2 separate regions of the Homo sapiens genome follow, and region 2 is linked to region 1. The links come from fine-mapping of genetic effects on gene expression. A gene starts in region 1. The other region holds a variant in brackets. All regions are shown on one strand. Distances are between the middles of the regions.

Region 1 (15,135 bases):
AACAGGTATTTTGTAGCAAAGTCTAGAACAAGGGTTTCCTATATCCTAGGTCACTGCTTTTACTTTTTATGTATTTAGAGCAGATATTTAATAAAATTATTGTTTTACAAATGATACTAATATTTATTTGCCTGACTATTTTAACGTTATGGCCTAGAATTATAATAGAGACAAAAGTTGCTATGTCCAATTTGATTCTTAAAAAATCTTTTAAGATTGTTTTCAATTCAAGTGAAGACAAAGGGGAATTGAGGACACAAAGATAATAGTTTTTTAAAAAATACTTTAAAAAAAGATATATACTTTTTAAGATTTTCTAAGAGACCAAAAAGGCTCTGCTACAGTTTAAATAGTGAGCAAATTATGCATGTTTGTGTAAGTATATGACATATTATTATGACATATGGTTTTCTTGAGGAACAAGGGGGGAGGCCAAGCAATGGCACAATTACTTGCAGTGTTACATTTCTCATGTCTATTTATAATCCATACTCTAGTATTGTTTGAACTATGAATTAATAACTATTATTTTCATAGGCCAAATACGAATTGAAAGAAATAATTTAATTTTTAGGTTAATCCCCTTATTTTTTCATTTTCATTTTTCTTCCCATAAAGTATTTTAAAGAATACTTAAATGATTATGGAATATATTTGGTGTTCTTGATAAACCTATAATTTGCAATTCTATTTTTGCTTACTCAGAAAATCTTTTGTCAAAGGAATCTTGATTGAGTTTTAGCTGAATTAGAAGACATCTAAAATTCCTTTAAACTCTAGGATTTTGATTCTCCTTTAGTCCTAAATCCAAGCCACTAATCTATTTTCAGAAATGAAACTATACAACTTTGAAGAATTTACCAATATGTCTGCTCAAGTGACAACTCATTGTTCTGAGATCACGTCTGACCAAGAATTACTGCCAAATACGCAATTAAAAACTGTATGTCTTGGGTGTGGGCAGCAAAGATCAAGTTCTACTTGTTCATGTGGATTAGTGACTTGGACTAGTTAGGTTCCCTCAGAGTACTGAGGCCCTAAGGCTTTGGGTGTGAAAGAACTAGAGCCTTGCCTTGGAAAACCAGAAGCAGCTGACACCTGCTTAGTAAAGCACGAAGCAAAAGGAAACCCAATACTTTTTTGTGTGTGCAGGATTTACCATCACTATTCACGTTGATTGGAAAATGACAAATAAATGTTTTGTTGAACTCTTATGTGATTTTTATTTTGTTTCTAGTTATGATTTGTATCACCACATGCTTTCAAATGGAATATTAGGCAGTTTTGATTTTCTGTTTCATATTGGGGTCAAACTTTTGTTTCTGTGACTATATCTCAGAGATGATTATGTCAACAAAATGCAAAAATGCAATAAAATGGAAAGGTATTTAATTTGAGAAAAAAGCTTTTTTTCCCATATAGTACATAACATAGAGTAACTTTCATATGCTAAATACATTCAAAGGGACACCAGTAAATGGCATTCTTTCCTGTTTATAGAAGCTGGTCCTATTCTGTCTTGACACTTATATGATGTCCTGATAACATAGCTGCAGAAGTGATAATATTTTACAACATGCAACAAATAAAACTTGTCATATAGAACCATAGTCTTCTCCCCAGGAACCACGTACAGTTTCTACTGAAAGACAAGGGCATCAGAGTATGTGTGGCAAGAAATCATTCAGCTTTGCTTCTGAGACTCTTCTCTCAATTCTCAGAAAAGGAACTCAGCAGGATTTTCTGACCCTTACTGAACTAGCCGGGTGGTGACAATTCCAGTTTTGACTTGTATTCTGGAAATTTTTATTATGCAAGTTGTATATCTCAGTATGCATCACCACCTCAGGCATAGCCTGGTGTCCGTTTACTACCCGGTTTATAGCGATGAACTAACTCTAAAGCACAGGCAGAGCTGAGTAGTGACATGAGTTGCTTCATGATTTCTAACCCAGTATTTCTCAGACAAGATCTTTCTAGCTGAGCAAAGTTTACCTCAGTTAACTTTTTGACATTTGGCACATTAATTTTAAACAAGATATATTTATTTGGTACACTCACCTGGTTTCTGTTAAAGACTCGCTTAATATTATAAAGATAAAACAATGGCCTTGACCAATGCCATGGAGTTTTCCCTCTATGTTTTCTCCTAGTAGTTTTATGTTTTCTCCTAGTAGTTTCATGTTTTACATTTAAGTATTTAATCCATTTTTAGATGATTTTTGTATATGGTAAGAGATAAGGGCCTAATTTCATTCTTCTACATGTTGATCTCCAGTTTTCTCAATACCATTTATTAAAGAGACTGTTCTTTCCTCATTGTGTGTTCTTGGCACCTTTGTAAAAAAAAAAAAAAAAAAATTAAGTTGACTGCAGATGTGGTTTTCCCTGGGCTATTCTATCCCATTGGTTGATGCGTTTCTTTTTGTGCCAGCACCATGCTTTTTCAATTACTATAGCTTTGTAGTACATTTTTGAAATCAGGTAGTGTGATGCCTCCAGCCTTTGCTATTTGTTTTTCTTGGCTAATTGGGGTCCTTTGTGGTTCTATATGAATTTTAGAATTGTTTTCTCCATTTCTGTGAAGAATGACCTTGGAATTTTGGTAGGAATTGCATTGAATCTACAGATCACTTTGGGTGGTATGGACATTTTCACAATATTAGTTCCTCCAGTGCAAGAATACAGGATATCTTTCCATTTATTTGTGCCATTTTAAATTTCTTTTATCAATGTTTTACAGTTTTCAGCATATAGATTTTTTATCTCCTTGGTTAAATTTACTCCTAAGTATTTTATTTTTATACCTACATCATAACATCACATTTTACCCCATAAATATATACAATTATTATTTGTCAATAAAAAAATTAAAAGAATAAAATAAAAACATGATTGTGTAAATGGAAAACAACAAATGTAGACTTTAAATTAACCAGTGATGATCTAAAAACCTTTCATTTATTTCTTAAATAAAATAATGTGGTTTCTTAAGAAAAAAGGCATAATGAATTATGGGGAACCTGAGGGCTTCTGTTTACCTGATATTTCAAAGACCTTCAATTTTTTAAAATTTTCAATATGTGATGAACTAAAACAGAATCAATTTTTAATAAATGTTTGTGAAATTTAAAAAACCCACAATGGATGTAGTTTTTAGCTTGTATAGACTTAGATACCAGACTTCTTGAAGATAAGAACTAGATTCTATCCACATAATTACTAGGTGTTCTAAAAATATGGGGTGATTTGAGACAAAGGAATGTGTCTGGTATGGACATCTCTGCTGGCCATTCTTTTGTGAGCAAGCAAAGCTGTCCCTGCATGACATATTTGTATGATACCTGAGTAGGGTAATACTGAACATGGCGCTACCACATTTTTTCCCTCCTGCAAGGCACCTTCAGGTCTTACAATAGATGATGCTGTAGTACCATGTTAATGCCTTCCTTGAAATTTAGACTTTGGAGCTACCTGATAGGTGAGAATTAAATATAACAACTCTTCATCCTATTTGAAATAGTTGGAAGGAAGGAGGGCATTGCTCAAAATCATACCAGGACAACAAGCATAGCTCTGACTTGCCCCAGTCAAACCAGGATATGGTCATCCTATCTTGCACTCTGAAAAAAATCGTGTGTTCAGATAACCTACCAGGGCAGAAAGGCCATTAGGAGCTCCATCTCTGCTCTGATGGTGAAACTAGAATTAATGCTATCTGATGTGCTGGGCAGGGAGAAGGAGGTAAGGATGCAGGGCACATGATTATTTTTGTGTTATTTTAGGATTTGACCATCAGCTTAGGTCTTGTTCCTTCTTCCTGATGGCTAAACTCTGTCTACCATTCTCTTGCCAGGATCCAAATCCAGATCAGAAGAACCCATCAGAATCATGACAGTACCATCCCCTGGAATTCAAGCCTGACCTCCACAGCTCTAGCTGCCGTGTCCCACCCACAGAGCAGATCCTCTAGGTATTTTGTTGTCTTCAGATCCAGGTACATACACTTTAGGCCCAGCGTGTGGCAGTTATGAAATAAAGCAAATGTTTCAAAGACAAGTCAGACTTATTCCTCATTCAGATGGGTAAAACTATATTGAGTGTGAAGAAGAAAGGGCAGGGTAGGAAGAAAACCAGAGGAGAATTAAGAAGTGATTTCAATTTTTGAAGTCAATTTTATTGATTTCTTGACTGACTCAATAAAGGAGTGAAGTTGAATTGGTTGATATCTAAATAAAAATATCCATTCTAGGACAACAGATGTGTGTAGCTCAGGTGAGCTTTTAATCCAAAGTAAGAAGTAGGGATTTCAGACCCACATTCAGAATCCTGAGGCCATGGTAGTTTTGAGATCTCCTCTTTGTAGCCCTGAGTGTTGACAAGCCCAGCTTGGTGTTCAATATTTGGCAACTCAGTAGGATGTCTGAGACCCTGCAGAATTAACTATGTATTTCAAGGTTGTAAGATAGGAGACAAGATTTGAGATTTGTGGCACAAATATTTTTTATCCCACCTTCCAAAATAGGCTGGAAGTAAGATCACAGTTGCTCTTCTTAATGGTAACAACTACTTAGCCTCCCAGTTCCCGCATGAAATTACAATATTTAACCAATGTAGAAAACAGAATATACTTTACTGGAAACTTCCCCTACATACTGTTGAATCTGTATCTTTAAGTTTGGTCAATGCAGAAGTGAGCAGGTGAACAAAAAGTGTCCTGTGGTGTCTATGGGTGGGTGAACAAAAGGTACCCATCCTGCTGCTTGGGTCCTTCAGAGAAGTGCACAAAATCAGCTGCATGCTGGTTTTACAGCTCTGTGCATGACTCTGAGGAGTTATAGGGTAGCTCTTCCCACTGCCAAAGTAGGAGGACCAGAGATAGGATCAAGAAAGCATCTTCAGTCGGATTTAGGTAGGTTATTAAGTGCTGATGATTCTTCTTCAAAGCTAATCCAGAAAAATGGAAGCAGTGGGCCTGACTCACTGAGATAAATAGCTTAGAGGCAAGCAAATCCACGGTTTTGTAGATTTGACTTGAAAAAAATCATTAATTCTTATAGATAAATATCAAAATAGAGAAATGATCAAATGGTGTGAGAATCTAGGAATACTGCATGGGAGGTAGGAATGAAAAATAGAAAAGGGTAATCTACAAGAAAAGAATTTGGCCTCTTCCAGTGGGAACATATCATTTGGAGGTTTTTTATGTTTGAAATTTTTTAAGGACAGAGATGCTCATTATTAATGTGTCTGTGTGTTTGGGCTTGGCCAGCCTAAGATTTTGTATATAAGGAGGCTTAGGAGTAATAATGTGATTAGAAGCGGGCTTGAAGAGGTTGGGGTTGCTAAGGAATTTGTTTTGAAGTTGCATTGCCTGGTAAACATAGTGCTTTTACTAAGATTTTGTGTTTATTGGGGTGGCTTTGCTAGCATCCTCCCGCTCCATTTCAAGCTGTGCCCTTTGGAGTTGTGCTTTTAAACCTTTGAACACTGCTCATATGAGGTATAAAAGGGTTATCCCAAACTATGTGTATCTGTTGCCATGAGCTATTGACAAATGTAATATACAATAATACACATGTCTGGAAAGTAGGAAGATCTATATAAGTAAGGGAAATGTATGAATTTTATACTGAAAGCTTTTATTATAAAATGAGCCATTATGTCCTCTGCCTTATTTTGAAGCCATTCACTTTTTATTACTGTAACTTTTGCAATGCCTCATTTTCCCTCCAGCTATCCTCTAGTCCAGTTAACTCAGCAAGCACAAGTTTATGATGGATCATTTAAGGAGCTGGAAAATTTTAATGGTTAGCCGTGGCAGTTATGATGTGTAAGACTCTAACTGCTTTAAGTAAAAGGACAAAGTTCAAAATATAACTCCATCTTTATAAGTGCTTTAATTAAAACCAATCTTATTATGAAAAACAAACCAAAAAAACCTTGCATTGATGGATGGTAGCTATTTGCAATTTCTTGTTTTGGCTGGATGCATTGAAGGATTAAAAATTTAATATTTAAGGTGTGCCTTAAACTGCAAGGTTCCCTGATTTTATTCTCATCTAGGAATTTTTGCTGCTTTAGGTAGCTGACAACATGCAGATCCATACTCTATCTCTTAAGATTTTCTTTTGGAACTGATTCCAGGTGAAATTTTCTTAGGGAAGATGTGGCTAGAAGCTGGGTATGCAAAGCATGTCTATAGCAAGGAAAGCCAGATGAGTGAGGGTCAAAAATCTAGTTATAAAATTTAAGGGAGACACTAGGTTTAAATAAACATATTCTCCAACCTTAGTGATTAATTTTTTTCCTTTTTTGATCATCTGGCCATGTACTTAGAGAAGACTCAGTTCCCTGAAAATGGATTACTTTGAATATTCTCTGCAATAATTTAATGTAGTACTCTCCATTTCTCTACCAACTGCCTGTTGCTAAGCCACCAACACTTAACTGTCCTTAGGAAGAACTAATATACAATAATCAACTTTGTGGAAGGCACATCTATGTACATAAACTTTAACTGGGAAGTTGTCTTTAAATAAAAATGACACAATATGCTCCAAAGCTGTGTGTGATTACAGAATGAGAAGCTGAAAAACTACTCACGTTTATCAAGTAAAGCCTCAGAGAAATATTACGGTTTCACCACTAGGTGGAAATAGAGTAATTTTGAGTACGCTTTTTCAAGGCCATGAACTTCTACTGCAGGAGTACTTCATAAACTGAAGGGGACCTAAAAAATCATTTAGTATTAATTCTCATCTCCTTAAATTCATAGATGATAAAACTAAGCTTCAGAGATATTAAGTAAAATTGCATCTGTCTTGAAAAAGGCAGTTTTCTAAGCTACTGGAAGAAGAGTTGCTAGTAATTCTTGATTCTTCAGTCATTTTCATCCATAAGAATAATGTGTTATTATCTTCCAGTGTGAAGGAAAACATGATATAACACCTGTATTACCTATGTGCTGTTACTAAAAATAATGAACAGCACAGTTACTAATGTTCGTAAGGACAGGTTAGGATAAAACTATTGTTTCTTGTTTCCTATGTTGTAATTAATCACAATCAAGTGATGATTCTCCTCCTTCTTTCCAAGAAGAAATACTCAACCATCTCCATAAAGTTATATGAGACTTCAGTGAAATTTGATTTCACAACATTTTTGGTTTTACACCTCATAATGGGTGCAAGGTAAGTAGCCTAGAATAGGCCTTTACTTAGCGGGTGAAGGCAGTACTTAACTGCTTTTTCACAGCTTAAAATCCATTACCATTACTCTGGAGAAGGAAAGAATCTGAGTAGTAGAGCTTAAGGGGCATTAGAAATAATCTACTCCAATCATACATCTGTATATGCATCAGATGTGGTGTCTGAAAACAAGACATTCAATGTGTTTCCCTGAGGAACAGAGCAATCACCATGCCCTTTTTTGTTCCACAAGATACAATAACGGTTATTATTCTGGCCATATAGCTTTGTTTTGTCTGTATGTTTTAACACAAAAGAATTATTTCCACTCATCACATCAGAGATTGTGTTTAAACTTAAGTTTTAAGTAAGGCCTTGGGATTAAAGGCTATTTCTTAAGTACCTAAGTATCTAGTACTCCAGTGCCATTATCTTTTTGATATTTCTGTAACATGTTAGATTATGATCATTTAAAAATTAGTATCAGAGTGCTGCGTCCTATTATTACTACATATAGTCTATACAGAAATGGATAAGACATGTTGAAATAGCACATGAAGAGCTCAAGTTCAAACACACAGGCAGCCCTAAGGAGCTGCCTGAAGTGCCTGGTAGCCAGGGCTTCTCATCACTGAGTAAATGATGCACTCAGCTTCCCTCAGAACACGAATATTTTCTGAGCAGTAGGGCCTCGGGTGTGGGACATGCAGACCCTTATTGGGAAAACAATTGAGTGTTAAATGGTACCACAAGGAAGACTGGTGTGACCCTAAACTGAGGGCAGGGACTTGAAATGAAAGGGATGCAGTTCAGGGGAGTACATGTCCTGCAGCATGTTGGGAGATAGCAAACCAACCTCAGATTTCAATTTTGTCAAGGATGATACAAGAACTAGTAGTGTCTCGGTGACTGTGGTCTACTCAGAGCTCCATCACAGCTACCCTGAGCCCAAGGCAGTCAGGTGTGGTCTGATTTCATAAGGTCTTCAGTGAGACGGACCTGGATGGGGATTCTGGTTCTACCACTGTGAGAACTATCTTTGCCCTATTTTCTCTTTTGAAAAATTGGGATAACACCCCTAGCAAAAATATAGTGGAGACCAATGTCTATAAAGTGCCCAGGAAGCACATCTAGCACTTAGTAGCTACTCAATAAATGCACATTACCGCTATCGAAACGGCCAGCCTGTGTGGCAACTTCCTCACCTCAGTCCATCTGACTTCCAACAGGCACCCGGGAGCACCAAGTAATAAATTGTGAAGAGTACACTTTGAAACGTATCATGTTCTACGCACATGTGTAGGGTATTATTATAGTTCAAGAGAAAGAGGGAACCCGCTGGTGTCTGAGAAGAAACCCGCTGGTGTCTGAGAAGAAACGGTGAAGGGTGCACTACGAAGGGAATATAAACTAATCAAACATTCTTGAATGGCAATGACAGTCACTAAAGTTGACACTTCCTGCAGTCTTTTAGTTTAGAAACCACACTTCCCGAGACGTCCCCCATCCCAACAGGGATAAAATCCTCTAGCTCAACTCAGGTATATCCCCACTATTGGGCCAGGGAGACCTGCGGATGGCGAGAGCAGGTTCTCTTAGGAGGGTGTGGATTGTGAGCTTGTGCGCTGGCGAGGAGCAGAAGGTCAGGGAGGCACCGTAGTTAATGAATCAATAAACCAAACAGCCGATCAATCACTTCCTGCAGTCCGAGTCCGGCGAGGGCTAATCGATTGGTCCGGGTATTTTGAAAGGAAAAACGGCGGTGGATATGTTGTCAAACGGAGGGGTGCAGGAGAGGCGGGGCCAGGCCTCCAGGTGACCCCTCTGGCTTCCTGGGCCTGCAGAGGCGCCGAAACGTGCAGGCGCCGGCGTCCATGAGGCGTGGGGCGCGCCGGGCGAGTCCCTGCTTGCAGGAGGCGCCCGAGAGGCCGTCGCGTACCCTGGCAAGAGGAGCTGGTTAGCACCTCCCGACCCCGAGAAGGCCCAGGGGGCGCCCGGCGGGCGGGGCGGGGACCGGGCGAGGCCCGCCTCCCATTGGCCGCATAGCGCCGCCCAGCGCGGGCCGCCGTTATAAAGCAGCCGCCGGCGCCGGGTGCCTCACAGCACGCTGCCACGCCGACGCAGACCCCTCTCTGCACGCCAGCCCGCCCGCACCCACCATGGCCACAGTTCAGCAGCTGGAAGGAAGATGGCGCCTGGTGGACAGCAAAGGCTTTGATGAATACATGAAGGAGCTAGGTGAGGCACCCGGCCTGGCAGCGCCTGCAACGTGGCGTGTTGTGCGGTCGTCTGTCCCTAGGTCCCCGTCAGCGTGCCAGATTCTGGGGCAGGAGATGCTCGGCGGCCTACCCCCATCCCCTCCCATCTTCCCCACCACGCGGCCGTTGGGTGCAGCGCGCGCAGCACCACGCGGGCAGGCGGCGAGGAGCAGGGAGCGTGCGCGCCTCTTGCCCGCCCGCGGGCCGCAAGATTCCGGAGGTGGTCCACCCCGTGGTCCACCTACCTCTGCTTCTTTCCCTTCGCCCAAACGGCAGCCCTTCCGCATTGCTTCCTGTCCTTTAGCGCGCGCACCCGTCACCTCACGCTGCACTTCTTTCGACCCCCTCCAGGCGACCCTGTATTTCCCTTTTTTCCCCCTTTACTCATCCTTCCCCTTCCTGCCACCATTCTGTCTCTCCCATTTACCCCATCGTGGCAGCACCCACTCCCCTTTCCCTCCCTGTCGCATCTTTTGTTCCCTGTGGCGCGCAGGTCACCCTCCGTTTTCTTCATGGGGACGCGGTGCTGGCGCGCAGTTTCCCGCAGAAATCCTGTGGAGGGGTCTGAGTGGCGCTACAGCTTCAGCTTGCATTCCTCTGTCAGCCCCGTCTCCCCCAGGTCCTCTGCTCGCCCTTACCAGTTGAGCCGAACCCTTTGGATTGGTACCCCATGGAACACCAGGGCCCCCGAGAAGCGTGGCGCTGGCGGTGCCGACCTGCTGCTGGCACTGCCGGGCCGGGGCGCCGCAGTGGGCGGGTGGCCTGTGGGAGGAGCGCAATGAGGCCTGGGGGTGGCCGTGTGTTGCCATCCTGGCCTCTGCCACTTGAGGGTGAGGAGGAAGGAGGCAGTGGGCTTTGCTGGAAAACCGTAACAGAAACTGCCTGGCCCTCCTGCGGCTAACTGCATGCAAGATGGGTGTGGCCCTGCAGAAGGCAGATGACTTCTTGAAGCGTTCCGAGGGAGAATGAATCTCAGTAGTAAGATTCATTTCTCACTCAAAACAGTGCTTCATTATAAATTACTGTCCTTTTCTATGCCAGTGACAGATTGCATGCTGATTGAGACACTGGATAAATTGCAAACAAAAATGGACCTTTGTCACAGGCCACTAGGAAGTGAGATGGAGTTAGCATAGCATGGATCCTCTCTGGAAGGGAGCTTCCAGCCCTAAGGGATGGCTGGGATTTATGAGGGTGCTTCAGAAGCCGGTATCCACAAATGTTAACCCGGTTGCTCGCTGGTGAAATAACTACCGTGACCCTCTATTGATACCTGGTCGCCGTGGCACTTCGGAATCACTCCTTCAGTACCCTTTATCCAAGACCATGTGGTGTTAAGGCTGGTTTATGGTGAATCATGAGTGTATTTTTGATACTATCAGTAAAGAAGGCAGTATTTTTCTTTTTCCTTGTAAACCTACATCAAGATGACTCTGGAAAAAGCGATTTACTGCACCTGTCCAATAAATAACAGTGTGTGTGTGTGTGTGTGTGTGTGTGTGTGTACAAGTTTAAGGCCCAAAGAACACTTTTCTCTGCCTGTAGAAAGCAAATTGTGTGTAGGTTTGGAGGGCTTGTTTCCAGGATTCTGGAGTCTTGAAGGTTGTCAAGACTCAGTTCATTAGGGAGCAGTCACAATGTGAAAAGAGCAGAGCCCATTTATTTGTCCAAAGTGAGAGTACATAATGACTCAATTAACAGCATAAGGCACCAGCCCTGAGCTGGCAAAAGAGAAGGCTCCAAGGGGAACTTTAAAGCCTGGCTGGGTGTTCTTCATCAAGACAATCATGCTGCGTAGGTTGTAGTCTCCTCATTTATGAAACAGTGATTTGGCCTGGATCTAAGATTCCTTATACATGTTAACTAACTCTAAGGGGAAAGAGATAGATCATAAATTACATGTTAACGTTGAGGGGAAATTGATAGATCATAAATTAAAATATAATTTAATATGTTATATATTTCTATTGATTTATATACCTATGAAATAGTTTTTATATTGAAAGGTAGGATTTTTTTTCCCATTTGTTAGCATCATGATTGTGCTGCTGAGTTTTAAAAGATTGTGCTATTTGAATATCTCAGGATCAATTTCTATTTTGTGTAGTCTATTAATCAAATATTTATCGAGAACATTTATATGCCAGACTGTGCTGGAGTCATAGAATGTAATGGTTGGCAGAATCTAGTAAAAAGAAAAAGATTGAGCAAACTCCTGAATTTGCAATTTTGAATGCTTTATCTCCACCTTCTATCAACTGCTTTGAGTAAATAAAATTTGGAAGTCCACATTTCTTCCCTAACTTTCTGAAAGCCAGCATAGCATGGTGGCCAGAGCTCAGATTTGGAGCCAGGGTGCCAGTGCTCTTGGTTCCCAGCTCCATCACTTTCTAGTTGAATGATCTTGGGCAAGTTACTTCCGTGCCTCGCTTTCTCATCAGTAAAATGGAGACAGTAACATCTGCCTTTTACAGGGCTGTTGTAAGGCTTACCTGAATTTCATATATGTAAAGTGCTGGCTCATACCGTGGGATATATGTTTACAATAGTTATCAATAAGCAAATAAGTGAAAATATGCCGCACAAAGTGATTACAATGGAATTATTGCTTTTATCATGTAAATGATAACTTTGGTCTTCCTGTTATTTAACATGACTTAACATTCTACAGGAGTGGGAATAGCTTTGCGAAAAATGGGCGCAATGGCCAAGCCAGATTGTATCATCACTTGTGATGGTAAAAACCTCACCATAAAAACTGAGAGCACTTTGAAAACAACACAGTTTTCTTGTACCCTGGGAGAGAAGTTTGAAGAAACCACAGCTGATGGCAGAAAAACTCAGGTCAGTCGTGACATGTTATGAAATCACAGAAGCTTCTAGAATGATAGGCTGTATCAATAACATTTTACTGTTTATAGGCAAGAACTTAATGAAAAAGTTATTTTATGAATTGAATTTTGTCAAATTAGCAAAAGTATCAACTTCATCATAGAATTGGCATCTTTTATTAGCTACTAGGTTGAAAACCACAAACTATTGTGAATAAAATCAATATGGGTTAATGAAGTAGACTCAGAAAGGAGAAGGTGAAACAAATGTTGATTAAGGAGGTTATGAGTCATGGAAACTCTTGTAATGTACTTGGAAGATTAAAACGTTTACTTTGTTTTTGCAGACTGTCTGCAACTTTACAGATGGTGCATTGGTTCAGCATCAGGAGTGGGATGGGAAGGAAAGCACAATAACAAGAAAATTGAAAGATGGGAAATTAGTGGTGGTAAGTGTCAAACTGCTGTGTCTCAGTCAGCTTCTTGTGTGCATTCATAGTTCACATAACTGTTCTATATCATTGATCATTAACAGAACTCAGTTTGGAAGAAAAAAAAGCAAAATAACAAGTTAAATACTAGAACACTAATTATTAAGAAAGTCCTAGTGGAGATAGAGAAGTGACATGACATAGGAGAGGATTTGGCTGGAGTTGGGGGGAGTTCTTGCTTTGCTGCCACGTCACAGTGAAATCTTGGCAAGCCACCAAACTGCACACATTTTTCTATATCTTTAAAATAAGGAATATTTGCCATAACCAAAAGAATAAAGATATATTCAACACATTAGTTTTCTGTAAAACATGCATATTATAAGCAAAACAACAGCTTCTGGCTTCTCTCAAACCCGTGAATTCTGAAAGAAATTTTCTCCATCTATGAAGTAGATTACGTGATTTCGTGGGACTTTGATTCTAATGTTTTAATACCACCACTGCTCTGGAATCTAAGGCTAACCTAACTCTTTTAATATCTTTCCTTCTTCTAGGAGTGTGTCATGAACAATGTCACCTGTACTCGGATCTATGAAAAAGTAGAATAAAAATTCCATCATCACTTTGGACAGGAGTTAATTAAGAGAATGACCAAGCTCAGTTCAATGAGCAAATCTCCATACTGTTTCTTTCTTTTTTTTTTCATTACTGTGTTCAATTATCTTTATCATAAACATTTTACATGCAGCTATTTCAAAGTGTGTTGGATTAATTAGGATCATCCCTTTGGTTAATAAATAAATGTGTTTGTGCTAATATATCTTGTATGCATTCTTTAAACCTTACAGGAAATTAGTGATGAGTTTTAATAATTATTAATTGAGTAAAGGTTGGGGCAGTCTTGAGGGTACTATATTGAGATGACACTCTAGCAATTTATATAGATAGCTACTCTTACAGGAAATACTGTACCAATTATTTAAGCTTGCCCTATACTATTTGAACTTTGTATGAATTCAGGAATCTTGAATTTCTGGCAGAGACCATTCTCAATAAAAGGTGACTACAACATAAACTTTATTATTCAAATTAGAGCAAAGGTTTAATTAACCAGCATTGACTAAAATACTTTTTGTGTGTATTTATATACAAATATAAGTAATACTATGTATGGAATAACCAGAATTCTAGTGAATCTCTGTTTCTCGGTCCCCAACACAAATATCCACAGTTCACATTTGGAGAAGCAGGCTGTTGGCCCTGAGCTAAAGCTTCGCATAAATGATCTTTAGGGCAGACGTTAAAGGGCTGGTACAACTACAACCATTCTGCAAGTAACTAGTTCAAGGACAGGAGGTAGTAGAGCTGGACCGACAACCTATATCTCATCAAGTCTACTCAATGTGTTCAGTCATTCTGCAATGCTGTCTCTTTGCAGCTTGTGCAGATCTTGTCTAAAGTCCCTACGTATACTAAGTGAGACTTCTGAAACCACCCTCCACGTGCAGAAATGTTAACTGGTAAGCCTATTCTTTTAAGAATTAGCCACAGCTAGCAGTCAGTGGAGGTTTTCAACTCGCTGATACTCTAGTCCTGTCCTGTCCAATACATAGCTATGAGTCACACATGGCTATTGAACCTTTGAAGTGTGACTAGTCTGAATTGAGACGTACATAGGGGATTTCAAAGGCTTAGTACAAAAAGTAAAATGCCTTATTAATGATTTTTTTGGTATTGATTGCATATTAAAGTAAATATATATTTGTAAAGTTAATTTTACCCATTTACTTTTTTAATGTTTCTAGGGAAAATGTAAAAATTGCATGTACTTTCATTTCAGTCATGCTTATTTCAGTCTCTATGCTGGGGTTCTTTCATCCACATTTTCCGCTTCTCATAATTATGTATATTTATTGACATTCTCTCTGAACCAAACATGATTATGAGAAGTGGAAAATGTGGATGAATGAAGAACCCTAGCATAGAGACTGAAATAAGCATGATTGAAATTCACATAGAAAGGAAGTCTAAATCAACACTGTCCAATAAAAAATACGACACAAAAATGAAAGTTAGCACGGGACCCATAATATAGTAAAGGCTTAATGTCCCACCAGCACTTCCCAATATAACTTTATGTGACATGGAAATGCTCTTTAATATCTGCACTGGCCACTAAGGTAGCCACTAGCCGTAAGTGAGTATTGAGCATTTGAAATGTGGTGAGTGCAACTGAGGAACTGAATTTTTAATTTAGTTTTTATTAACTAAAATGTAAATTTAAGTACCCACATGTAGTTAGTGACTGTTAATTTGGACAGCATGGGATGTTTCCAAAATTGAAATTCTTATGTTTTAAACTTTCAAACCGATTCCTCTTGCAGTATTCTCCCTCTCAATTCATGGGAATGTCATGTTTCCA
Region 2 (16,053 bases), 24 kb after region 1:
GAGGTCAGGAGCTCAAGACCAGCCTGGCCAACATGGTGAAACCCCAACTTTACTAAAAAAAAAACAACAACAAAAAACAAAAACTTATCCAGGCATGGTGGCGGACGCCTGTAGTTCCAGCTACTTGGGAGGCTGAGGCAGGAGAATTGCTTGAACCTGGGAGGCGGAGGTTGCAGTGAGCGGAGATCATGCCACTGCATGCTAGCCTGGGCAATAGAGTGAGACTCCGTCTCAAAATAAATAAATAAATAAATAAATAAAAATAAAATTTGTGTGGATTGTTTTCAGTCTTTTGCTCTTATAGATAACCAAAGTTCAGGCTACTTTTCATTCAATTTATAGAGACTCTAGAGTCTAAGTACAAATGGGAATCCAATGGGAGCGATCTACAGGCTCAGGAACCAGAGGCAGGAATAGGAGTGACCTTGCTCACCATGACTCCCAGTGACCTGCTTGTCCCTTTGAATACGTTTTTATGGTTTATCCCCCTGGCTTTGGTGTACTTTCAGCAGCCAGCAGCTAAGGCTCTTTGTGGGAAATCTGTCCTTGGACTACTAGAGCCCTTTTTCCCACACATGCAGAAGGCTGAAAGTGACTGAGAGTTTGTGTTCTTCTTTCTCTGCCAGGGCTGCCTGGTGCAGTGTGGGAATATGAAACCCAGCTCCCTTGCTGAAGATGGGACAACACCAAGGCTGAACTCACACTTGAATTCACCCACAGGATGGGGCTGAGCCTGAGATCTCATCCTTCATGGCTTCCTCTCCTTCCTTCTGTTTCAGAGGAATCTGACCTAACTCACTTGTTTAGAGTTACAAACAAAATAAATGGTGAGGTCAGGACCTAGGATTGCTGTATTGAGCAAATAAAAATACAGGACTCTTGCATTTTATCTAGCAATAAAAATAAAATAAAAAATACAGGATGTCCTGCATCTTATGTCTGGCAACCTTAGTCAGGATACTAATCCAAGTCTGTCTAATTCCAATACCCATGCTGGTTTTTAAAAAAAATTAATAAATCATTTTGAGTCTGTAAATAACTTCAGTGTCACATTACAAAATACAAAAATACAGTAGTAAAATTGTCAGCCTTCCTACTACCCCTGTCCCCAGCCACTCGTCTCCTTTTTAGAGGCAATCATGGTAACCTTTTTCTTATTTATCTTTCTAGCAATATTCTCTGTAAATCCAGGCATAATTATATATGCATCTCTGTACCTTGCTTTATTAATTTAACAACTCCTCTAAGGTAGGTCCTTATCAGACATATGGTGCTGTTTTGTTTTAGAAAATTGCAAATATACTTGGGAAAGGCTTAATTAATAGTCTTGTGGATTGTTTTCAGTCTTTTGCTCTTATAGATAACCAAAGTTCAGGCTATGTTGTTTTATTCAATTTAAAGAGACTCTAAAGTCTAAGTACAAATGGAGATCAAGAATTGAGCTGCTAAGTGCTGCTAACAGCATTGAGGAGAGATGTAGGTTACTTGATGATAAGGCAGCCGCAAGAGTTCAATGGATGCTATCTGATGTCTGAAATTATTCTGCCCCTCATGAGTACTTATACAGGAATTATTTGAGTAGATATGAATACATGTTTATACCTAATCCTTTAGTCTCTTCCTGTAGGAAACTAATAACCATTTACTGATAAAAATATCACTCACAGCCAGGCGCGGTGACTTACGCCTGTAATCCTAGCACTGTGGGAGGCTGAGGTGGGCAGATTACCTGAGGTCAGAGTTCAAGACCAGGTTGGCCAACATGGTGAAACTCCACCTCTACTAAAAATACAAAAAATTAGCCAGGTGCTGTGGTGCATGCCTGTAATCCCAGCTACTCTGGAGGCTGAGGAAGGAGAATCTCTTGAACCCAGGAGGTAGAGGTTGCGGTGAGCCGAGATCACACCACTGCACTCCAGCCTGGGCTGCAGAGCGAGGCTTCATCTCAAAAAAAAAAAAAAAAGAAAGAAGTAAAAAAAAATATGTCACTCACTATAGGGGTGGGAATTCATCTACCTAATTTCATCTGGGAGTCAGTGCATTTTCTAAAAGTAAGTGCTCAACAGTGGAGTACCTGCTGCCAAAATCCTCAAAGATAAGAATGTGTTTTAAAAGGGCTGGCTCTGTGATAAGCAGAAGGGCCTATCCATCAGTAATACTTCTTGCTGGAAAAGCAGCCTCAGAGAAAGTGGAACCGATATAAGGCAAGTTCCTGGAATATTGTTTTGCTAATAATATCTCCAGAAGGGGAGATTCATTACAGAGACAACACAGGGCCCAGTTTGTTCAGGGTCATGATGCATGACTGGTTTGGTGGTTATAGGAGGTTGACAAGAGCAAGTAGTCCAGCACAGAGTCAGGCAGAGGCAGTTTAGTTTCTTACTGGCTGAGAAGATGGTGGGGGAGATGCAGGGATGGGTTTGGTATGCATAAAAGTATTGTTCTGGACTGATATTTATTTGAGGCAACTCTCATTAGGTTAGACATGCTCCCTGCCCTCAGTAAGTTTACAATGCATTAGACTGACATGGAAACAGATGTTATCTAAACAAACACAAGAATGATTTTGAACAGAATTTATACATTACAGTATAGAACACATGTGATGCATGTAATTCAGTTTTTTTTTGTTTTTTTTTTTGAGATGGAGTCTCACTCTGTTGCCCAGGCTGGAGTGCAGTGGCATGATCTCAGCTCACTGCAACCTCTGCCTCCCGGGTTCAAGTGATTCTCCTGCCTCAGTCTCCCAAGTAGCTGGGATTACAAGCACACACCTTCACACCCAGCTAATTTTTGTATTTTTGGTAGAGACGGGGTTTCACCATGTTGGTCAGGCTGGTCTTGAACTCCTGACCTTGTAATCCGCCTCCCAAAGTGCTGGGATTAAGGTGTGAGCCACCGCACCCGGCCTCAGATTTTTTAAAACTCCGTAATTTTCTGCTAGTCAAGTATATCAAACTAGGCCCTGAAATAAGTTTCAACAAAGGCAGGCTAATGTAGTAAATAATTTAGATCATGGTTATTTAATTGCTATATATCCTATGTTTCCCCCATGTAGAATTAATGTTTTCACTCTCTTTAAAAACATTTTTATTACTGAAGGAAGAAATCACTTTGAAACGTTAGATAAGCATATGGATTTTCAACGTAGTTTGATAGGTGATGTATTAATTGGGAAAAGAACACTATCAGATTCTGCCCCAGGGCATTTTTTTTTATTTTTTTTTTTTACATTCTTACATTGTCTGTTCTCTGAATTGTGTGCGTGGTATGTATGCTCTCACAGTTTAATTTATAAGTTAAATAAATAACACGGAAACCAAAACAATCTGTGCTCCTTAAGTACTGTACAACAAACTTCTCAACCACAGGATTTACTTTAGCACTTCCCGAAAAGTGCTTCTGCAAATATACAAACTCACACCACCCACTTGCAGATTGCACTTGAATACCAAATAAGGGAGTCTTGAATGAATGAGGGGCTAGAATGCAAAACCCAGCATTTCTTTTAAAAGCAAACAAAAAAATAAAACATTGATTTTTTTTTTCCTGCATGTGCCTGGTAATACTAGTTTGCTTACACTCCTGTTTCTTGTTTCTTTCTCTTCCTAGCCTCCCTATACTTCATGATCCTCACCAGGTAAATTTAAGAATGGTAAAAACAGTGAAACTCATCTTTGGTTCTAAATCTCTTCACCTTTCCCATCTTTATTCATCCACTATCTTCCTTGTTCTCATGATTGTCAAAACAGGAGTCATGGAATCAAATAAACCCCAAGCCCAGAGTGGAGGGACTTGGAAGAGTCATTTTGTACAAAAGTCCAGGAGATTTAAATATAGTATTTAGATTTTCAGGGCTGAAAGGAACCTTACAGAGGGTTCAATCTCATTTCAGGTATTTGACTCTTTCCTGAAATATGTAGAATTGTTTTAAAACAATTTTTAACTTTGTGAATTCTTGACTCGTTACGCCTACTCTCTTCAGCCTTTGAAACAGAAAATTATTAGTCTTAACTTTCAAACCAATAATGTTTAAACATTCAATAAAATAATTATTGTACATATCACATGAAACTAATGTTATAAGTCACTGCCTAAATGAAGTACACGACTTTTTTTCTCTAACTTTCTTTCCCAGGCTAATTCTCTGGTATATTTTTCTACTTTCTGTGTTCCCATAGCAGTGAGAAAACAGGTATCATCTTTATTTTGTTATTCTCTTGTTCAAATCTGAAAAGGTATTGAACTCAGAACTTGAGGAGCATAATTAGTATAGAAAGTAAAACAAGAAAAAGTAGATACAATAAACTATTAAAAAATCAAATTCTGAAGCTCAAGGGGACCTCAGATATCATCTAATAAACTATCTTCGTTTTATTTTTAATGAAAAAACATTATTTAATTCTTTCATAGTTATCGGAAATTTCAGTTTTACTTTATTATTTTACCTTTATAGTTGTATGATACTTTGCTTTTTAAAATAATTATTTTAGATTCAAAGGGTACAGATTTATTACATAGATATATTGCCTGGTGCTGATGTTTGGGCTTCTAATGATCCCATCGCCCAAGTGGTGAACATAGTACCAGATAGGTAATTTTTCAACCTTGCCCCCTCTTCCCTCCCTTATTTTGGAATCCCCAGTGTTTGTTGTTCTCATCTTTGTTTCCTGTGTACCCAATGTTTAGCTCCCACTTATAAGTGAGAACATCCTGTGTTTAGTTTTCTGTCTCTGTGTTAATTGGCTTTGGATAATGGCCTCCAGCTGCATCCATGTTGGACATGATTTTGTTCTTTTTTATGGCTGTGTTTTCATTTTACACGATGAAGAAAGGAAGACCTAGAAAATTTATGTGACTTGCTCAACAATACACAAATGGTTTATGATAGAGCCTCTGTTAGTTCCCATTCTCTTGACTTCCAGAACACCGCTGGCTGTATGAAAGATCTCAAGAGAAGCTTTAATGCATAAAACATATTTTTGCCTTTCTTGATTCCTAAAAGCTTTTTCTCTAGGCATTTGGATTCTGAGAACTTGATTTCTTTTCCTCTTCTTCTTTTTCTATTTGCATAACAGCTAACTCTAATTTAAGCTCTTTCAGCCCCAGTTATAGGAAACGTATTATGCATCCACTGAGCCAGTTCAATTCTCAGACAATTCTCAGTGTTTGGAATGGATTCCAGAGTCTCCCAGCATTTGACTATTTATTTATAATAAGGAAGGGGAGGCTGGGCACGGTGGCTCACGCCTGTAATCCCAGCACTTTGGGAGGCCGAGGCAGGCGGATCACGAGGTCAGGAGTTCGAGACTAGCCTAACAAACATGGTGAAACCCCGTCTCTACTAAAAATACAAAAAATTAGCCAGGCGTGGTGGTGGGTACCTGTAATCCCAGCTACTCGGGAGGCTGAAGCCGGAGAATTGCTTGAACCCGGGAGATGGAAGTTGCAGTGATCTGAGATCACTGCACTCCAGCCTTGGTGACAGAGCGAGAGACTTCCTCTCAAAAAAAAAAAAAAAAAGAAGGGGGGGAGCAGTAGTATAGGCAATCCAAATTAATAAATAATTTTTGAGTAATTGCAAATAAATTTAATTGTAGAAACTAATACCTAGGTTAACATATTAATGGGAGCATCCATCTTGGGCAAGGCATATATGCCGGAATGTTCAGGGCCTTGCTTTCTGTTGATGAAAAGACTCAAACTCTGTAAAATACTTGAAGAGATTTATTCTGAGCCAAATATGAGTGACCAGGGCCTGTGACACAGCCCTCAGGAGACCCTGAGAACATGTACCCCAGGTGGTCAGGGTGTAGCTTGGTTTTATACATTTTAGGGAGATATGAGACATCAACCAAGTACATTTAAGATATACATTGGTTCAGTCCAGAAAGGCAGGGCAATCCAGAAAGCAGGGTAGAGGGCTTCCAGGGTCATAGGTAGATTTCAAATTTTTCTGACTGGCAATTGGTTGAAAGAGTCATTATCAATAGAAAGGAATGTTCCAGTTAGGATAAGAGGTTGTGGAATCCAAAGTTTTATCATGCAGATAAGCCTCCAGATAGCAGGCTTCAGAGAAAATAGATTGTAAATGTTTCTTAACAGACTTAAGATCTGTGTTGATGTCAAATGCTGGTCCGCTTTTTCTGAATTTCAAAAGAAAGGAGCGCATAATAAGGCATTTCCAACCCCCCTTTTCCCATCATGGCCAGAACCAGTCTTTCAGGTGCCCTGGACAAGGAGGGAGTTCATTCAGATGGCGGGTGGGGGGCCTTTGAATTTTATCTTTGTTTTACATTTCAAAGAGAGGTGACTTACATAGTTCCATCTACCACCATCTCTACAGCGTATAGGAGGAATGCTGATAACAGCTGCAGAAGTTCTGGAGCATACTTCAGATACGAATGGTCTAAGCAATAATGGAATATTTAGTACTGGAGGGAAGTACATGGTAGAGCTGGTAGACCTGCAATGAAAATATTTCTAGAATGAACCTCATTGAGAAATGCCAAACAGTTCAGGAAACTAAAGGAATGAGCACTTGTAATCAGTTCCAAGAATATTATTAACAGGACTCTTCCCATTCACATGGTCTCATTACCACTCCTCTCCATTATTTTTACACACACACACACACACACACAATGTGTTTATTTTCAACTCCATTTGATCTATATGTATCTTCTCTCTTCATTTTAGTAGCTTTCTGATTCTCACTGTTTTCTAAGAGATGATGTAATTTACTATTTTTATTTAAAAAGTTCTACATCTCTTCTCTTTGGAAATTCTGCAGATTTGTCTGATTATGAAAAATTAGGCATTTACCTTTAAAATGAATCCCAACACGCCAAAAACAGTTTCAGTGTCTTCCTAGTCGTTCTAATATCACTGCAGAAAGCATTCTCAGTCTTTACAAAGATGTTTTTTAAGATTATGTTAGTATATGGGAAATAAAAAGATATTGCTACAATGGGTCCTCTTGGCTCAGCTGTCTTGAGGACCAGTGTGGATCCATGCAGACTTGGATTGAGCTGTAGCAGATTACAGAAGTTCTTGAACGATTGTTTTCCTTACTTCTGGATGGGAAGAATATACATGGAGGAAGTTCTTTTTCTTTCCTTGAAGATCAGGATTCCCCAACCCCTAGGCAGTGGACCAGTACCCGGCAGTGGCCTGTTAGGAACCTGGCCGCATAGCAGGAAGTGAGCAGCAGGCAACTGAGCATTACTGCCTGAGTGCCATCTCACATCAGATCATTGGCTGCATTAGAGTCTCATAGGAACAGGAGCCTTATTGTGAACTGTGCATGCAAAGGATGTAGGTTGCATGCTCCTTCTGAGAATCTAATGCCCTAATGCCTGATGATCTGAGGTGGAACAGTGTCCTCCCAAAACCAATCCCCCTCCTCAACCCACCTCTCCATCCATGGAAAGGTTGGGGATGGCTGCTGTAGATGGCATATTTCCAGATTCTCTAGAGTCTTTGGCTTTTTAAGGATCGTTTTAACCCTTGTATATTGTGTTTTCTTCTAATTGTTTCCTCTTAAATAAGGGATCACAGAACTAGACACCTCTATGGATAAGTTTT[C/G]TGCTAAAAAGCAGTTCCTTATCTACAATCTTTTCTCCTTCAGGCCATTGCCACTTCCTCTTCCTTGATTATCCCATTTCCCAGTTTTTCACCACTAGGTGTCATAAGTATTCACACAAATGCCTGAAAGGTGTAAAAATAAGCTTTCTTTTAAGTTGTGCCCCTGAATATCTTGACTTTCCACATCCAAATCTTGTATTGCTTGGGCTCATGTTATTAGCTCACATTGACATGCGATTCCAACTCAGAATAGAGAGTGTAGAAAAAGTCATAAAATCAAGGAAAAACGGCTGGGCGCGGTGGCTCACGCTTGCAATCCCAGCACTTTGGGAGGCCAAGGCGGGTGATCACGAGGTCAGCAGATCGAGACCACGGTGAAATCCCGTCCCTACTAAAAATACAAAAAATTAGCCGGGGCGTGGCGGCGGGTGCCTGTAGTCCCAGCTACTCGGAGAGGCTGAGGCAGGAGAATGGCGTGAACCCGGGAGGCGGAGCTTGCAGTGAGCCGAGATTGCGCCACTGCACTCCAGCCTGGGCGACAGAGCGAGACTCCGTCTCAAAAAAAAAATAAATAAAGTAAAATAAAATAAAGGAAAAACAAAATGAACATCTTTTTGGTAAATATGTGTAGCTTTGACTTCTGCAGATTTTGTTCCTGTGAGATCATCTTCCCCACTCTGCCCCAAAAGTGTCTTTAGCCTCACTCTATGAGATTAACGGGCAGCTTTCCTTTTAGTGATGGGCTGCACAAGAGTGCGTTGAAAAATCCCTTAGGAATCATTTATTACTTTGTAATGGGGAAACGTGAGACATCACAACCCAGTCTTGTGCTACTTATTTGTATTTCAGCTGAAACGGCTGACACATTAAAAAACATTTTCAAATCATGGATTTTTAGAGCTAGAGCTAGAAGAATCCTTAAAATGAAGTCTAATCTTTTCATTTTATGTGAAGGAAATAATACCTGGAGTGTTTTGCTCCAGGCAAAACTAGATCTTGGACACACATCTCCCTACTTCTAAGCATCTTGCATCCTCTCTGTACATGTTACTATTGGGATAGATTCATGCCTCTACTCTGGAATAGATTCATGTATCTACTCTAGAATTTTAAGGAAAATATAAACCATAATACTCCTTCGACTATGCTTAATATTATGAGAAAAAGCTTAGCTCAGTAAGCCTCCTCGGTGGAGAGTTAATGTTAAAAAAATTAGGCTATTAGTTACTGGCACAATAATAAGAAACAATTTTTAACAGATTTTGCAGATTGCGTTTTAATTCAGAATGATGGGATAACTTCCTTTTTGCTTTTCTTTGTATTGAAAGTCAGTCAGATCCATACATATTTTTTATTGAAGTTTTTTTTTTAAAAAAGGGGATGACCATATTTAATGAAAAGATATACTCGATCCATTGGTATTCTAAGTAAAAAAGAATATTATTATTGTTCTCACCAAGATGTAAAGGAAATAAGCTTACTCAGATGTAAAAGCAGTGCAAATATTGTATTTTTAAAGTAGCTATATCATAAAATAATTAATTTTGTTCGTGTATACCCTTTATTCGTTGGGAGGAGCAGCTGTCAAAAGGCCTGGGGAGTCCCTGTCCTCTGGTGCTCATCCAGTTCCCCAAAGGAAGGATAGGATCATGCAGATCTTGTAAGATCCAAATAAGCCTCTTTTCTTCATGTTGACTGAACTTTCCTTGATAAATCCAGGTGCAGAGAATGTCTTGTGCGTAAGAATCTTACCTAATTATAATACTGAATAATTCCTTTGGCGAAATTTTCTCTCCCTTTTGTTTTTTAAAGATAATTAAAAACATTTTAATTGTATTTTTTCCTAGTTTTATTGAGGCATGATTGACAAACAAAGGCTAAATTTTCTTTTAAAATTTTGAAACACTGAATTAAAAACTAACTCTTTGGTCATAACTACAGTGAATGGAAATTATATAAACTGGTGATTCTGAATGGTGTTTGAGATGTTACACCAAAAAAAGGCAAGGTTAAATTAGGGAGATAAGGTTGTATGCTTAACACCTTTTCTTAGACATTCATAATACTGCTTAGCATATCAAAGACTGAAAAATCCTGAAATTAAGAAACTTAACCAACCGTGTTTAAAGTAGCATGTTCTGAGTATAGTTGATCAGAAACTTCTGTTGTAAAATACAAGTAACATCTTGTGAAAAACAGGTTGAGAAACCTTGATTGCCCTAATGACATAAGATACTTGCTTGATAAATCAACTACTGCATATCTTGCAATATGCAACCCTTCTATTTGACTTTTATCGTACTTATTGGCAGTATCTTAACAGTATTCCTTTTGCCTCTATGACTACTTTTTGGCCAATGGGAAGATTCATGGTTGCAACATCAAAGACCCAATCCCTGCCAAGTTTACCCACAGAATGTCACAATTATCAATGTCCTGTCAACAGATGAATCATTTAAAAATATTACCTTCAAGTGTGTTATAAAACAGTTTTTTCGGTTGATTTCCTCTAACTCATTTGTTTTCTTTTACTTAATATGAAATTGTTCAGTGTCACAGAGTCCCAGGCTATTTACTAAGCACCAAATATGCCTCGATTAAAAATACAATGGTCATAGTCCCTGGGTTTGATAGTATGGTTGTTACCTGGTGGTAGGCGTAGCTAGTACATTCAAGATAAAATACTGACCCTTCAGTATCTCATAAGAGGTTGAGTGTGTTTGTTTCTAATGCTGCATGGAAGTGGTACATCCAGATTACCACTGGTAATGGAAGTTTATCAGAAAAATCAAGATATAACAAGGTAACCTGGGCTACTGTTTCATAGATTTGTTGCAAATTTGCGTTACGTCCTGGAACTTCAATAATTGGGTATTCCATAAATCTTATGGAGAATTGTAATAATATTTTTATACTATTTTGCATCTGGCTACGGCTTCAGTGATTTGTTTCCCTGTGAGTACTTTCTATTTATACATCCCAAGAGAGATGATTCATTTTGACTACTTTGTCACCATTCCATTCAAAGAACTCTTACTAGGCAGAGTTTTATACCAAGTGACTACAAAGGCCATTGATCACCTTCCAGTTCAGGTTAATTTGGAAGCTAGTGACTTTGAACCAACCCAATCCCTAACTCCATCAATTAGGTGGAGGAGATACATGTGTCATAAATACTAGCTAATATTCCAGAAAAGTTACTTGCACTTTCTGTCCTAAAAGATGGTATAATGAATGTGGTGATGGGAACCCAGATTTTCATAGAAATTTTTTGGTCCAAGGCCTGTCAAGATCTGATTGCCACCTGCTCCTTCAACTGATTTCTGATTATCCTTCTCCTTCATTAGTTAAAATAAAGTAATAAAAGTAAAGAAATTGCTATTCTCTAAATGTTTCATGCTTTTATTTCCTTACATAATTTGTGCTTGCTCTTCTTTTCTACTAGAATGCCATCCTCTTCCTTTATCACCAAATTAAATTCTTCTCATATTTCTGGGTTTGATTCATGAAGTACCTTTCCTAGGTACTTTTATGTCATTCCTAGGTTCAAAGAAAATTTTAATGCTGTGAAAAAAATTAAGGATGGACAGATTAAGATGGCAGACAGGAGGCAGGACTAGCTTGCAGCTGTTGCTCAGATGGACAGAGCAGCGTGTGGAGACTCACATTGTGAACTTTTGCTCCAAGAACTACTGCAGGAACATACCAGGAAAGCTGAGAGAATCCACAGACCCTTTGAAGGTACTGGATCACTACTGCAGGCTCCCTGAGATGCTGCTGAAAAACTGTGAGTCTGCTTGCTTTCTCAACAGGGAGGCTCGTGGTCTGGGGCAAGTTCTCAGCCCTGGTCACTGGCTGCTTGGAAATAGACCTGGTGCTGTTGCAGGGCCACAGTGGGAGTGAGACCGGCCTTTAGGACTATGGGCTGCGTGGGAATGCGGTGAGGCCTGTGGCTGCCGACTTTCTCCCACTTCCCTAGTGACCTGTATGACTCAGCAAAGGCAGCCATAATCCCTCCGGGACTATAACTCCATTGGCCTGGGAACCGCACTCCCATCCCCCACAGCAGCTGCAGCAAGACCCGCCCAGAGAGAGGCTGATTTCAGACACGCCTATCCCTGTCCCCACCTGGTGGTCTTTCTTTACCCTCTCTGGTAGCCAAAGACAAAGGTCTCAATTTCTTGAGGGCTCTATGGCCTGCCCACCACCTGAGAAACCTGAGTACTTAACCAGGTGTCCCTAGGGCAAGTTTGCATTCTCCCTATAGGACCACAGCTGATGCGCTCTTGAAAGCACCACCTCCTGGCTGGAGGCCAACCAACCCAAAACCAGCACACTAAAAAACACAACCAAGGACCCTCACAGAGTCCACTTCACTCCCCTGCTACCTCCACCAGAACAGGTGCTGTTATACGCGGCTGAAAGACTTTAAGATGAATCACATCTCAGGACTCTTTGCAGACACTCCCCGGTACCAGCCCAGAGCCTGGTAGCTCCACTGGGTGGCTAGACACAGAAAGGCAAAAGCAATCACTACAGTTTGGCTCCCAGGAGGCCCCATTCCCAGGAGAAGGGGGAAAACATCCTATCAAGGGAGCATTCCATGGGACGAAAGAATCTGAACAGCAGCCCTTGAATCCCAGATCTTCCCTTCGACATAGTCTATCCAAAAGAGAAGGAACCAGAAAAAAAATCCTGGAAATATGACAAAACAACATTCTTTAACACCCCCAAAAGATTAAGCTAATCAAGAAGGCACCACAGAAAGGTGAAGTCCAACTTAAATAAATAAAAAAGCATAATACAAGATATGAAAGGAAAATTCTTCTGTGAAATAGCATAAATGAAAAACAATCACATTAGGTAATCATGACTCACTCAGAGAAATGCAAAATGCACTGGAAAGTCTCAGCAATAGAATCGAACAAGAAAGAACTTCAGAGCTCAAAGACAAGGCTTTTGAATTAACATAATCCATGAAAGACAAAGAAAAAAGATTATTAAAAAAAAAACGAAGCATCCAAGAAATTTGAGACTATGTTAAACATCCAAACCTAAGAATAACTGGTGTTCCTGAAGAAGGGAAATCTAAAAGTTTGGAAAACATATCTGAGGGAATAATGGAGGAAAACTTCCCCGGCCTTGCCAGAGATCTAGACAAATATAAGAGCTTAAAGAACACTGGGGAAATTCATTGCAAAAAAGATCATTGCCTAGGCACATAGTCATCAAGTTATCTAAAGTCAAGATGAAGAAAACAATCTTAAGTTCTGTGAGGCAAAAGCATCAGATAACCTATAAAGGAAAACCTATCAGATTAACAGCAGATTTCTCAGCAGAAACACTACAAGCTAGAAGGGATTGGGGTCCTAGTTCTAGCCTCCTTAAACAAAACAATTATCAGACAAGAATTTTGTATTCAGCGAAACTAAGCTTCATGACTGAAGGACAAATACAGTCTGTTCCAGATAAATGAATGCTGAGAGAGTTCGCCACTACCAAGCCAGCACTACAAGAACTGCTTAAGAAAGCTCTAACTCTTGAAACAAATCCTCAGAATGCACCAAAATAGAACCTCCTTAAAGCATAAATCTCACATGAACTATATAACAATAGCACAATGAAAAAAACCCAAGGTATTCAGGCAACAAATAGCACGATGAATAGAATAGTACCTTACATCTCATTACTCCCATCGAGTGTAAATGGCCTAATGCTCCACTTAAAAGATATGGAATGGCAGAATGGTTAAGAATTCACCCACCTAGTTTCTGCTGTCTTCAGGAGACTCACCTAACACATAAGGACTCACATAAAGTAAAGGGGTGGAAAAAAATACTCCATGCAAATGAACACCAAAAGTGAGCAGGAGTAGCTATTCTTATATCAGACAAAACAAACTTTAAAGCAACAGCAGTTAAAAAAGACAAAAAGGGACATTATATAATGATAAAAGGACTAGTCCAACAGGAAAATATCACAGTTCTAAATATATATGCACCTAACACTGGAGCTCCCAAATTTATAAAACAATTACTACTAGATCTAAGAAATGAGATAGAAAGCAACACAATAATAGTGGGGGTGTTTAGTACTCCACTGACAGCACTAGACTGGTCATCAAGACAGGAAGTCAACAAAGAAACAATGCACTTAAACTATACCCTACAACAAATGGACTTAACAGATATTTACAGAACATTCTACCCAACAAATGCAGAATGCACATTCTATTCATCAGCACATGGAACATTGTCCAATATAGACCATATGATAGGCTACAAAAGAAGTCCCAGTAAATTTAAGAAAATAAAAATTATATCAAGTACTCTCTCAGATCACAGTAGAATAAAATTGGAAATCAACCCCAAAAGGCAACCTCAAAATCATGAAATATGTGGAAATTAAATAACTTGCTCCTGAATGATCAGGAGCAGGTCAACAATGAAATCAAGATGGAAATTAAAAAATTTTTGAACGATAACAGTGACACAACCTATCAAAACCTCTGTGATACAGCAAAAATGGTGTGAAGAGGAAAGTTCATAACAATAAATGCCTACATCAAAAAGTCTGAAATAGCACAAAAAGACAACATAAGATCACATCTCATGGAACTGGAGAAATAAGAACAAACTAAACCCAAAGCCAGCAGAAGAAAAGAAATAACTAACATCATAGCAGAACTAAATGAAATCGAAATAAAAAAATACAAAAGATAAATGAAACAAAAAGCTGATTTTTTGAAAAGATAAATAAAATTGATAGACTGTTAGTGAAACTAACCAAGAAATGAAGAGAGAAGATCCAAATAAGCTCAGTTAGAAATGAAACGAGAGATATTACCACCAATACTACAGAAATACAAAATATTATTCAAGGCTACTATGAACACCTTTACACACATAAACCAGAAAACCTAGAGGAGATGAATAAATTCTTGGAATTATACAACCCTCCTAGATTAAACTAGGAAGAAACAGAAACTCTGAACAGACCAATAACAAGTAGCAAGATTGAAACAGTAATTTAAAAAATTGCCAACAACAACAACAACAAAAGCCCAGGACCAGATGGATTCACAGCTGAATTCTATTAGACATTCAAAGAAGAATTGGTACCAATCTTACTGAATGAAACTACTCCAAAAGATAGAAAAAGTGGGAATCCTCCCCTAAATCATTCTATGAAGCCAGTATCACTCCAATAGCAAAACCAGGAAAGGATATAACAAAAAAAGAAAACTACAGACCAATATCCCTAGTGAACATAGAGGCAAAAATCCTCAACAAAATACTAGTGAACTGAATCCAATAGCATATCAAAAAGATAATTCACCGTGATCAAGTGAGTTTCATACCAGGGATGCAGGGATGGTTTAACATACGCAAGGCAATAAATGTGATGCCTTAAATAAACAGAATTAAAAGCAAAAATCACATGATCATCTCCATAGATGCAGAAAAACATTCAACAAAATCCAGCATCCCTTTATAATTAAAACCCTCAGCAAAATCGGCATAGAAGGGACATACCTCAATGTAATAAAAAGCCAACTATGACAAACTTACAGTCAACATTATACTGAATGAGGAAAAGTTGAAAGCATTTCTCCTGAGAACTGGAACAAGACAAGGATGCCCACTTTCACCACTCTATTCAACATAGTACTGGAAGTCCTAGCCAGAGCAATCAGACAAGAAAAAGCAATGAAGGGCATTCAAATTGGTAAAGAGGAAGTCAAACTTTCACTGTTTGCTGATGATATGATCGTAAACTTAGAAAACCCTAAAGCTTCATTCAAAAAGCTCCTAAAACAGGTAAATGAATTCAGCAAAGTTTCAGGATACAAAATCAATGTACACAAATCAGTACCTCTGCTATACACCAACAGTGACCAAGCTGCAAATCAAATAAGAACTCAACCCCCTTCACAATAGTTGCAAAATGATAAAATAAAATACTTAGGAATATACCTAACCAAGTAGGTGAAAGACCTCTACAAGGAAAACTACAAACACTGCTGAAAGCATAGATGACACAAACAAATGAAAACACACCCCATGGTCATGGATGGGTGGAACCAATATTGTGAAAATGACCATATTGCCAAAAGCAATCTACAAATTCAATGCAATTCCCATCAAAATACCACCACCATTCTTCACAGAACCAGAAAAATAAAATCCTAAAATCCATATGGAATCAAAAAGAGCCTGCATAGCCAAAGCAAGACTATGCAAAAACCTATGTCTTTATTATGAATTACCTCTTTTTTAAAGTTAACTATAACATATTTTTATTACTGCAATGAAAAGGAGACTTAACAGTTACACAACCATCTAAAATACTTCTCATTTACCAATTGCCAATTATGTTCCAAATGGTGGCTTTCCACTTTATCAGCTGATCTATTCCAGGTGCTCTCAAAAACTTATAAATCCCTGAAGGACAATTTCTGAACAG

The links. PIP is the estimated chance that this variant, and not a neighbour inherited with it, causes the effect.
Region 2: its variant is the best candidate, but not a certain one, in a credible set for the expression of FABP5 in whole blood (TOPMed, PIP 0.59).

What each region holds. Positions count from the first base shown.
Region 1 is chr8:81,271,247-81,286,381 of GRCh38, forward strand. FABP5 (fatty acid binding protein 5) reads left to right here and starts at 9,290. Exons shown (of 4, transcript NM_001444.3): 1 at 9,290-9,428; 2 at 12,120-12,292; 3 at 12,627-12,728; 4 at 13,268-13,529. The coding sequence starts at 9,350. The coding sequence ends at 13,321. LNMICC (lncRNA associated with lymph node metastasis in cervical cancer) reads right to left here and starts at 10,178. Exons shown (of 2, transcript NR_186603.1): 1 at 10,087-10,178; 2 at 4,153-9,130. RefSeq lists enhancers at 8,933-9,767, 9,768-10,602 and silencers at 8,959-9,038, 9,049-9,338.
Region 2 is chr8:81,295,019-81,311,071 of GRCh38, forward strand. No RefSeq gene overlaps it. Among named protein-coding and RNA genes, the nearest start is that of LNMICC, 22 kb to the left of the region's middle. The variant C/G (reference allele first, on the strand shown) is at 7,588.